2 separate regions of the Homo sapiens genome follow, and region 2 is reported to be linked to region 1. Evidence: microRNA targets listed by miRTarBase, many of them from high-throughput screens and not tested one by one. Region 1 holds a microRNA gene; the other region holds the end of a gene's coding sequence.

Evidence for each region. Region 1 holds the annotated microRNA hsa-miR-548as-3p (UAAAACCCACAAUUAUGUUUGU, at 3,022-3,043, opposite strand). A microRNA usually pairs through its seed, bases 2 to 8, with sites in the 3' UTR of a target mRNA and lowers its output. Matches are read on the target gene's strand: a 7mer-m8 pairs with bases 2 to 8, a 7mer-A1 pairs with bases 2 to 7 and ends in A, and an 8mer does both.
Region 2: miRTarBase lists TMEM9B as a target of hsa-miR-548as-3p. Seed matches in the 3' UTR shown: 7mer-m8 at 376-382 and 7mer-m8 at 661-667.

Annotation. Positions count from the first base shown.
Region 1 is chr13:92,487,874-92,493,241 of GRCh38, reverse strand. MIR548AS (microRNA 548as) reads right to left here and starts at 3,079; the gene lies at 3,022-3,079. The region is part of intron 7 of GPC5 (glypican 5); the gene reads right to left. All of the region lies in intron 1 of GPC5-IT1 (GPC5 intronic transcript 1), which reads right to left.
Region 2 is chr11:8,943,635-8,948,634 of GRCh38, reverse strand. TMEM9B (TMEM9 domain family member B) reads left to right here. Exons shown (of 5, transcript NM_020644.3): 5 at 160-1,433. The coding sequence ends at 315. Among named protein-coding and RNA genes, the nearest start is that of ASCL3, 3.1 kb to the right of the region's middle.

The DNA of each region.
Region 1 (5,368 bases):
CCCTCTTTAATGCTGAAAAGTTCTAATTTTAAATTAATGTGTACATGTCAATATATGAGATTCAAACATATCTCATGCAGATGAGAATTTTTAAAACATAATTTCTATAGAAACTCCATTAAAAAATAATGTCATGAACCTGTTGAGTCTGTGTTAAGAAGGAACAGCTGCACACTCAGGGCCCTGGAAGGGAGCCCTATCAGTGTGAATTCAGAAAGCAACCAACAGGCTTATTGTCATTTATTTGTGAGAGAACAGCCATTTGTTTGACATACTGAAGTCAGCCTCAGGGTGAGGCTGCTTTGTTCCACACCTATCAGATGGAAAAAAATTATTCCCCATCTTCCTGATAAGAAGTCAAGGAGAATTTTGAGACAGTCACTAGTGGATACAAATAACTGACTGGACAACAGTTGGAGATTACTAGGCATTGCATTTATAAAAAAGGCAAATTTATTTCTGAGATGCTAAAAATTGTTTCAAGATTCAACAAATTCATGAATATTCATTTTTATTCACCTGGCTTTCCTAAGGAAGAAGAACATTACCCTAGCATTGTGTTTATTTGATTGTTCTAGTTTTACTTTTTTGCTTATAATATCATCTCTTTGATTACATATTTACCAGGACATTTTTATGGTTTAGGGAATTACTTTCTTAAGAAAATTAATGTGTTACTTTTTTTGTTTTGTTTTATTTTTATTTATTTATTTCTTGATTCTGTATTTTCTCTTTTTTTATATATTTTTATTATACTTTAAGTTCTAGGGTACATGTGCACAATGTGCAGGTTTGTTTCATATGTATACATGTGCCATGTTAGTGTGCTGCACCCATTAACTCCTCATTTACATTAGGTATATCTCCTATTGCTATCCCTCCCCCCTCTCCCACCCCACAACAGGCACTGTGTGTGATGTTCCCCTTCCTGTGTCCAAGTGTTCTCATTGTTAAAAAAAAAGAAAAAAAGAAAATTAATGTGTTACTCTATTCAAAATGGTCTTAATTTTTTAAATTAAAAATCACAACATTGACATCATTAGAAATGTATATAATTTGTTAAAACATATACACACACAAAATGCTTTTCTTCTGCAAAATACTGAGTCTATACCTGCTTCTTCTATATGTATTGTTGCACAAGAATGATAAAATGAAAGGTTTTGAGGTCCAGATCACAGCATGCAAAAAACATCAAAGGGACAGAGTCTGCCTTTTGGGGACAGACTTAAATGATGTAGACTCTAGACTGAAAAGATAAAAAAAACTGTGAAGCTGAAGAAAGAATGATTCTGCAATTATGAAGGCTAAGGATATATTTCAACTGAATTCAGTTAACAAGAATCTCCTTTGAACCAACAGAGAAGAAAACTGAGGGCAAATAAAAAGAAATATTACTTGACATAGTATAATAATTTTATGAGGTTTGGTTTTCTAGTCAGAATTGACACAGTTTGAATTTGGAGTAGTCTGAAAAAAATCAACAGTTTGGGCATGTACTGCTTAATTTTTAGAGTAATATTCAGGTAGAAGACAGTACATTCGACAATATATTTCTTGTTGCTTGTCAGAGGCAAAATGCTGAAGTGGATAATCTACACGGTTGGCCAAGTGCACTAATTCTTATATTTTATTATGAATATAAGAATAAATGTGAAATCCCATTTATTCACAAAAATCTCCTGACCAAATGAATGTGAAGAACGTGCTGCCGATGTGTGTTGAGAAAATCTTTGCTTTACCATGAGAAAATATTGATCAAATATGTTTCTATAGCATCAAAACAAAAACTACCCATCTTAATATGTGTATAAAACATGAAAATGCCTATTAATTGCACATTTCTAAAATATAATAGTTTTACAAGTGTGTCAAAAAGTTGACTGAATTATATAAAGTAATTCTGGTTCTTCCTTTTCTTTATTAGTCCCTATTTTTGTGGACTTGAAGACTAAAAAAATCAGATCTTTTTTTCTGTATAGCTTGTAATTATGGAGAATGTTTCAAAACAAATTAAAATAGCACTTCACATATCAAGGACATCTCAGAATCATTTTCAAGTTTAAATTTTTAATTAACATGGATCTGATAGTAAACCATTAGCATAGGTTTAATTCTGAAATAATCAGCAATTGAGTACACATCTCCTGACAAGAAAACATAATAAATTTCTGATTTGTCACTAAGCAGAAACTTGGTTCCATATAGTAACGAGACCATCTGAGTCCTTCTCAGTTTCCATAGGTATCTGTCTTTGTTCTACCTCATTCTGTACCCCCTGCATGTGATGGAGTTGACAGTTATTCCTGTATAAATTTTACAAGGCTTCTTTCATGATAAGTACAAAGATTTCCACTGTAGTTTTCTTGCCTCCAATAATTAGCTTGGATTTATTGAACTACTATTTATACTAGTATAGGTTCAACCCAATATATCTTTTCAGTCAATTATTTTTAAGAAAATTTTTAGTTCATTATCTGTTACACGGTTAATTCCTTCCTATGTCCCTATGCTTTTCAAATATAAGATAATATTAGAATTAGTCATAAAAATGAAGAGGTGAAAAACACTTTAAAATTTACAAAACACTTTTATATCTTTTATATACGTTAGTCACTGTGACCCTAAACAGACCACTGGGACAAACACCATTTATATGTTTATTTTAGAACTCAGGATACTGAGGCTTACCAAAGTGTTTACTATTATACAACCATTAAGTGGTAGAGCCAGTCTTCCACCTCTAAAGGCTGGGTGGATACTTAATGTCCCTTTACAATGTATAGCAAGGATACTGATTAGAGAGCCATCATTTTTGATGAGGTTTTATACATTTTTCTACCTGTAAGTTAATCTCGTGTTCATTTATTTATTTGGAAAACATTAAGATTTTAAAATATGCACAACACTAAACATTAGGGACACTAAAAATTATTTCTGTTAGTGAAAAAATAGATATAATAATACAATGAAAAGTGGCAGAATCTAGACGATAATGAGATTGCTTAGGATCAGGCTGGTACAAACATAATTGTGGGTTTTACCATTAAAAGCAACGGCAAAACCCGCAATTACTTTTGCACTGACCTAATAATTCACAAAGAACCGAGAACAATTCAGCTTGGAGTTTTCGGGAAACAATGCGCTGAAAAGTTTAACTGCACATTATAGATAAATTTTTTAAAATGCACAAGAAGAGTATGTAAACAGACATTCTAAGAGGAAGAAGCACATGTTAAAAATAAAAACTTACATATAATGTTTAGGGACAAATATGTCATAATGAAGTTCCACAGAATCATTTAAAATCCTGCCAAGAAACTTGCCCTATATTTTATCCTTTTAGAAGCTGACTTTTTTTTTTTCTGTTTGCAATATGACCATATTTTTTGTTTTTTACATTCAACCAAGAGTTCCTTCCTGGCTTATGAATAGGTGAATCAAGCCTTAGTCCCAGCTCTGTCTGTACCTCCAACTACTGTAGATATTTTGTGTGTCTAGACAAACAAAAGAACGTGGTGATATTTCTTCATCCATACTGTAGGGAATGTGGAGAAAGTAAATTAATATTCTGAGTTCTTCTGAAAGTAGTAATGGCAAGCTTAATGGCAAACTCTAGGTGAGTTTCTGAGAGCAGCCCTGCCTCAGGTATCCACGTGGGTATCTCTCACTTCCTTCAGTTATCTACTCCAATACCACCTTTCGAGTAACCCTGTCCATATCCCTCAACTAAAATAACAACATCAGCACTCCATCTCATCTCACAATTTTTATGCAAATTACCTTGCCTAATTCTTCTCCACGTGTCTCATCAATATCTGACACATGATGTATTTACTGGTTTGTTTTCTGCCAGTATTCTGTTTCCCCGTTAGAATAGAAACTCCATGAGGACAGAGAATTGGTGAGTCACAAGATGTATCTCTAGCAACGAAGACATAGCCCTGCACATACTAATACTTGATAAATATGTATAGGATCATTAGATAAGTGAATGGACATAGGTAAAATGTACATGAAAATGAAGGATTTTTCTTAGTTTGGTGGTTAAATCATTATTCTGTGTCATTTCATCAGAGTTTAGCAGTAGACTAGCCACCTTGAATTTCACATTCTTTCTCTACTCCATGATGCAATGTATTGTCAAAGAGAGATGAAGAGCTTGATTAAATTATTATGTGCTGATTTGTGCATAATTGAGTCAAATAGAAAATAACTGATATATTAATATTTATATGAACATCTGGGAACTTGTATATAATTCTGTCTAAACTTGAAACCATTCCCCTGAAATTTACTTGTTAAAAAAGCCCTTTCTAATGTTTTATTTGTTAGTAACTGCCTTTATTGTCAAGCCTTTAAATGCTATTGCTATGTTAGCACATTGATACACATAGACATGAACAGTTTTCCGGAGGGCAGTTTCACAAGTAGAATTAATTTTAGTCAATTTCACTTTCAAAGCTTCAAACATTATCATGAATCAAGAGAAATGCAATGCCTGCAAGAAACCACCACCTACGACACAGTATCGCTGTGAATTCTGAGCATATGCACTCTAAATACCAGGTTTTATGTCATTGCATTTCCTGTCTGGCTTTGAATGAATTCTGCCTTACAGGACTATTAGCAAACAACAAAAATGATAGCACTTCACAAGCCAAGGAATAACTAACCTACTTAAATATGTCTTCCTTTTGGATAGATTAAAAATGCCAGCAGTTAAGCAGCTGATGTATCAGCACGTATGGCAACGGAGGGATTTTTGCAGGCATATGCACTTAATCAAATATTACTTTTCCCATCACTGCCTAGAATCTATGTAATTTAATTAACTTATGCTTCAGTGGCATTTTGGAAATGAAGTGGATCTGAAGTAAGCATTGGATAGGATCTACTTAGCATTCCATCACGGAAAAGTGATGCATAAATTTAAATCTTTCGATAATATTATGCTTTGATTTAAATTGGTTTGAAAGATTTTGGACTGTTTAGTAAGTTTGCAATCCTTAAATAATTAGTCACAGCCACGTTAGAAAAAAATGGGTTTTCATTGAGTTTTGATACTGGATTAAATTTACAAACTTATATGCCTGTACACACACACACGCGCACACACACACTCAGGCACATACGTATCTGGGTATGTATGTTCATGCATATGTTCACATTTTTATTGAGGTAGAATATGAAGAAAAGAGCAAATATTATAAGTATACAGTTTGATGACTTCAAAAATTGCACATAAACACCCTAATCAAGAAACAGAAATTCATCCATCCTCACAATTCCCTTCATATTTCCTTCCAATCACTAATCCTTACCTCTTCTCATCAAAGGGATCTGCTCTCCTGGCCTGTAATAGCAT
Region 2 (5,000 bases), not on the chromosome of region 1:
ATCTGGTAGTTGAGCGCTTAGGAGTGCTTAGCTAAATAGATGCTCTGTTGTTTGAAAAGTCCACCTACCCCTATTTCTGTGGCGGGCTGGTCACTGTTGTGTGTCTATGTTTTACACTGACTGTGCCATCTCTAATGTTCTCCATTCCTGGACTTTTAGGATCACCAGCCTTTTGCAAATGCACACGATGTGCTAGCCCGCTCCCGCAGTCGAGCCAACGTGCTGAACAAGGTAGAATATGCACAGCAGCGCTGGAAGCTTCAAGTCCAAGAGCAGCGAAAGTCTGTCTTTGACCGGCATGTTGTCCTCAGCTAATTGGGAATTGAATTCAAGGTGACTAGAAAGAAACAGGCAGACAACTGGAAAGAACTGACTGGGTTTTGCTGGGTTTCATTTTAATACCTTGTTGATTTCACCAACTGTTGCTGGAAGATTCAAAACTGGAAGCAAAAACTTGCTTGATTTTTTTTTCTTGTTAACGTAATAATAGAGACATTTTTAAAAGCACACAGCTCAAAGTCAGCCAATAAGTCTTTTCCTATTTGTGACTTTTACTAATAAAAATAAATCTGCCTGTAAATTATCTTGAAGTCCTTTACCTGGAACAAGCACTCTCTTTTTCACCACATAGTTTTAACTTGACTTTCAAGATAATTTTCAGGGTTTTTGTTGTTGTTGTTTTTTGTTTGTTTGTTTTGGTGGGAGAGGGGAGGGATGCCTGGGAAGTGGTTAACAACTTTTTTCAAGTCACTTTACTAAACAAACTTTTGTAAATAGACCTTACCTTCTATTTTCGAGTTTCATTTATATTTTGCAGTGTAGCCAGCCTCATCAAAGAGCTGACTTACTCATTTGACTTTTGCACTGACTGTATTATCTGGGTATCTGCTGTGTCTGCACTTCATGGTAAACGGGATCTAAAATGCCTGGTGGCTTTTCACAAAAAGCAGATTTTCTTCATGTACTGTGATGTCTGATGCAATGCATCCTAGAACAAACTGGCCATTTGCTAGTTTACTCTAAAGACTAAACATAGTCTTGGTGTGTGTGGTCTTACTCATCTTCTAGTACCTTTAAGGACAAATCCTAAGGACTTGGACACTTGCAATAAAGAAATTTTATTTTAAACCCAAGCCTCCCTGGATTGATAATATATACACATTTGTCAGCATTTCCGGTCGTGGTGAGAGGCAGCTGTTTGAGCTCCAATGTGTGCAGCTTTGAACTAGGGCTGGGGTTGTGGGTGCCTCTTCTGAAAGGTCTAACCATTATTGGATAACTGGCTTTTTTCTTCCTATGTCCTCTTTGGAATGTAACAATAAAAATAATTTTTGAAACATCCATCAGTGTATCTATCTATGTCTCCTAGTTTTTTCCTCCTCCCTCTTTTGCTGTATAATGAGATTGAAGATATAAAGACATTTTGTACCCTGTTCTGAGACTACTGTTTTATACCAATCTAACCGTAAAATATTGGTGTAAATTATGTGTTTGCATGTATAGACAGAATATATGAATTTGGGGGTGGATCTCTGAAAAGTATACTAATATTTTGATAAATTGGGAGATTTCAAATTCCTGAAGGAGTACTTGTTCTGAGAAATTCTTGGCCCAAAAAAATCAGAATTAAATTCATAAAAGTGAGGTTTTAGGAGCCATTAATGGGATTTTGGGGTTTAGTAAAATTTTAAGCACCTACAAATATATAAATTATCAATTTTATTGTTAGTATTAAAAAATTTAATTTCAACCATGACCAAGTGGGATTTATCCCAGGTATGAAAAGCTGGTTCAACATTTGAAAATAACATTTCTAAAGAAGAAAAATTACATGAATTTTATCAATAGCAGAGAAAGCATTTGACAAAATAACCCCATTCATGATAAAAATTCTCAGGAAACTAGGAATAGAGAACTTCAACTAGATAAAGAAATGAGCTAACAAAAAAACCACAGCTAACATCATATACTTAATAATGAGAAATTAGAAGCTTTCCCATTAAGATCAGGAATAAGGCGAGGACGTCTTCTCTTACTATTCCTTTTCAACATTGCACTGGAAGTCCTAGTTGTACTGGAAGTCCTAGCCAATGCAGTGAGACAAGAAAAGGAAATAAAAGGTATAAATATTGAGAAGGAAGGAATAGAACTGTCTTTGTTTACTGATGCAATGATTGTCTATGTAGAAAACCCAGAAGAATTGACAACAACAATAATAGAACTAATAAGTGATTATAAAGGCTTGCAGGATACAAGGTTAGTATACAAAAGTCAATCAAACCAGGTGCAGTGGCATGTATCTGTAGTCCCAGCTACTCAGGAGGCTGAAGCAGGAGGATTACTTGAAGCCAGGAGTTTTGAGGCTGCAGTGAGCTATGATTGCTGCATGAATAGCTACTGCACTCCAGTCTGGGCAACACAGCAAGACCCTGTCTCTAAAAAATGTCAACCGTTTTCCTATATATCAGCCACAAACAGTGGAATTTGAAATTAAAAACAATACTATTCATAGTAGCACCCCCAAAATAAAATACTTAGGTATAAACCTAGTAAAATGTATCTAAGATCTATATGAGGACAACTGCAAAAATGATTAAATAAACCAAAGAACTAAACAAATGAAGATATATTTCATATTCATTAATAGGAAGGCTCAATATTGTTTAGATGGCGGTTCTTTCCAACTTGATCTATTGATTCAATGCAATCCCAATCAATATCCCAGAAAGTTATTTTGTGGATATTAAACTTATTCTAAAGGTTATAAAAAAGCCAAAGACAGAATAGCCAACACAATATTAAAGGAGAACAACAAAGTCAGAAAACTAACACTACCTTTGAGACTTACTATAAAACTACAGTAATCATGACAGTATGCTACTGGCAAAAAAGACAGATCAGTGGAACAGGATAGAGAACCCAGAAATAGGCCCATATAAATACAGTCAACTGATCTTTGACAAAGGAGCAAAAGCAATACAATGGAGAAAAGATAGTCTTTTCAACAAATGGTGCTGGAACAACTGGACATCCACATGCAAAGAAATCTAGTTACATACCCTGTACCCTTCACAAAAATTAATTCAAAATAGATCATAGGCCTACATGTAAAATGCAAAACTACAAAACTTTCAGAAGATAACATAGGAGAAGATCTAGATGGTGGTGATGACATAGCTGATAAAGGACTGCTATCTAAAATATACAAAAAATACTTAATAAGGGACAAAAAATTTGATTTAAAAATGGGCAAAAGTCCTGGACACCTCACCAAAGAGGAGATACAGATGGCAAATAAGCATATGAAAAGATGTTCCACATCATATGTCATCAGGGAAATGCAAACTGAAACAACAATGGGATACCAATACACACCTATTAGAATGACCAAAATCTACGACACTGATAACACCAAATGCTCTCAAGGATGTGGAGCAACAGGAACTTTCTTTTATTGCTGGTGGGAATACAAAATGGTACAGCAACCTTACAAAACTAAACATACCCTTACTATATGGTCCAGCAATTGTGCTCCATAATAATTACCCAATGAGTTGAAATCATGTCCACACAAAACCCTGCATGCAGATGTTTATAGCAGCTTTACTCATAAGTGCCAAAATTTGGAGGCAACTAAGATTTCCTTTAGTAGGTGAACGGATAAACAAATTGTGATACAACCAGACAATGGAATAATCAGCGCTAAAAAGAAATGAGATTTCAAGCCATGAGAAGACATGGAAGAACCTTAAATGCACACTACTAAGTAAAGAAGCCAATCTGAAAATGCTATATGCGGCCAGGCGTGGTGGCTCACACCTGTAATCCCAGCACTTTGGGAGGCTGAGGCAGGCAGATCATGAGGTCAGGAGATCGAGACCATCCTGGCTAACGCGGTGAAACCCCGTCTCTATTAAAAATACAAAAAAAAAAAATTAGCTGGGCGTGGTGGCGGGCACCTGTAGTCCCAGCTACTAGGGAGGCTGAGGCAGGAGAATGGCATGAACCCGGGAGGCGGAGCTTGCAGTGAGCTGAGATTGTGCCACTGCACTCCAGCCTGGGCGACACAGTGAGACTCCGTCTCAAAAAAAAAAAAAAAAAAAAGAAAGAAAGAAAATGCTACATGCATAATTAACAACTATCTGACATTGTGGAAAAGGCAAAACCATGGAGACAGAAATATCAGCGGTTGCAAGGGGTTAGAGAAGGAGGAGGGATGAATAGGCAGAGCACAAGATGTTTAGGCAGTGAAACTATTCTGTGATACCACAATGGTGAATACATGTCATTATATACTTGTCAAAACCCACAGAATGTAAATGTACAACACCAAGGGTGAGCCCTAATGTAGACTATGGACTTTGGGTGATTATGTATCAATGCAGGTTCATCAGTTCTAACACAGTACCATAATGATGTGGAATGTTCATAGCAGAGGAGGCCATGCACACGTGGGGGCAGGGAGTGTATGAGAATTAGCTCTACTTTGTGTTCAATTTTTCTGTGAACCTACAATTGCTTTAAAAATTAAAGTTGGGGCCGGGCATGGTGGCTCATGCCTATAATCTCAGCATTTTGGGAGGCCAAGGTGGGCGGATCACCTGAGGTCAGCAGTTCGAGACCAGCCTGGCCAACATGATGAAAACCCATCTCTATTAAAAATACAAAATTAGCTGGGTGTGGTGGTGCACACCTGTAATTCCAGTTACTTGGGTGGCTGAGGCAGGAGAATCACTTGATCCTGGAGGCAGAGGTTGCAGTGAGCCAAGATCACGCCATTGCACTCCAGCTTGGGCAAAAGAGCAAAACTGTCTCAAAAAAAATTAAACTCGGCATGGTGCAGCAGTCTATAATTCCAGCACTTTGGGTGGGATTTCTTGAGACCAGGAGTTCAAGACCAGCCAGGCAACAAGGTAAGACCTCATCTCTATAAGAAATACAAAAATTAGCCAGGCAAGTTGGCTCGCACCTGTAGTCCCAGCTGCTCGGGAGGTGGAGGC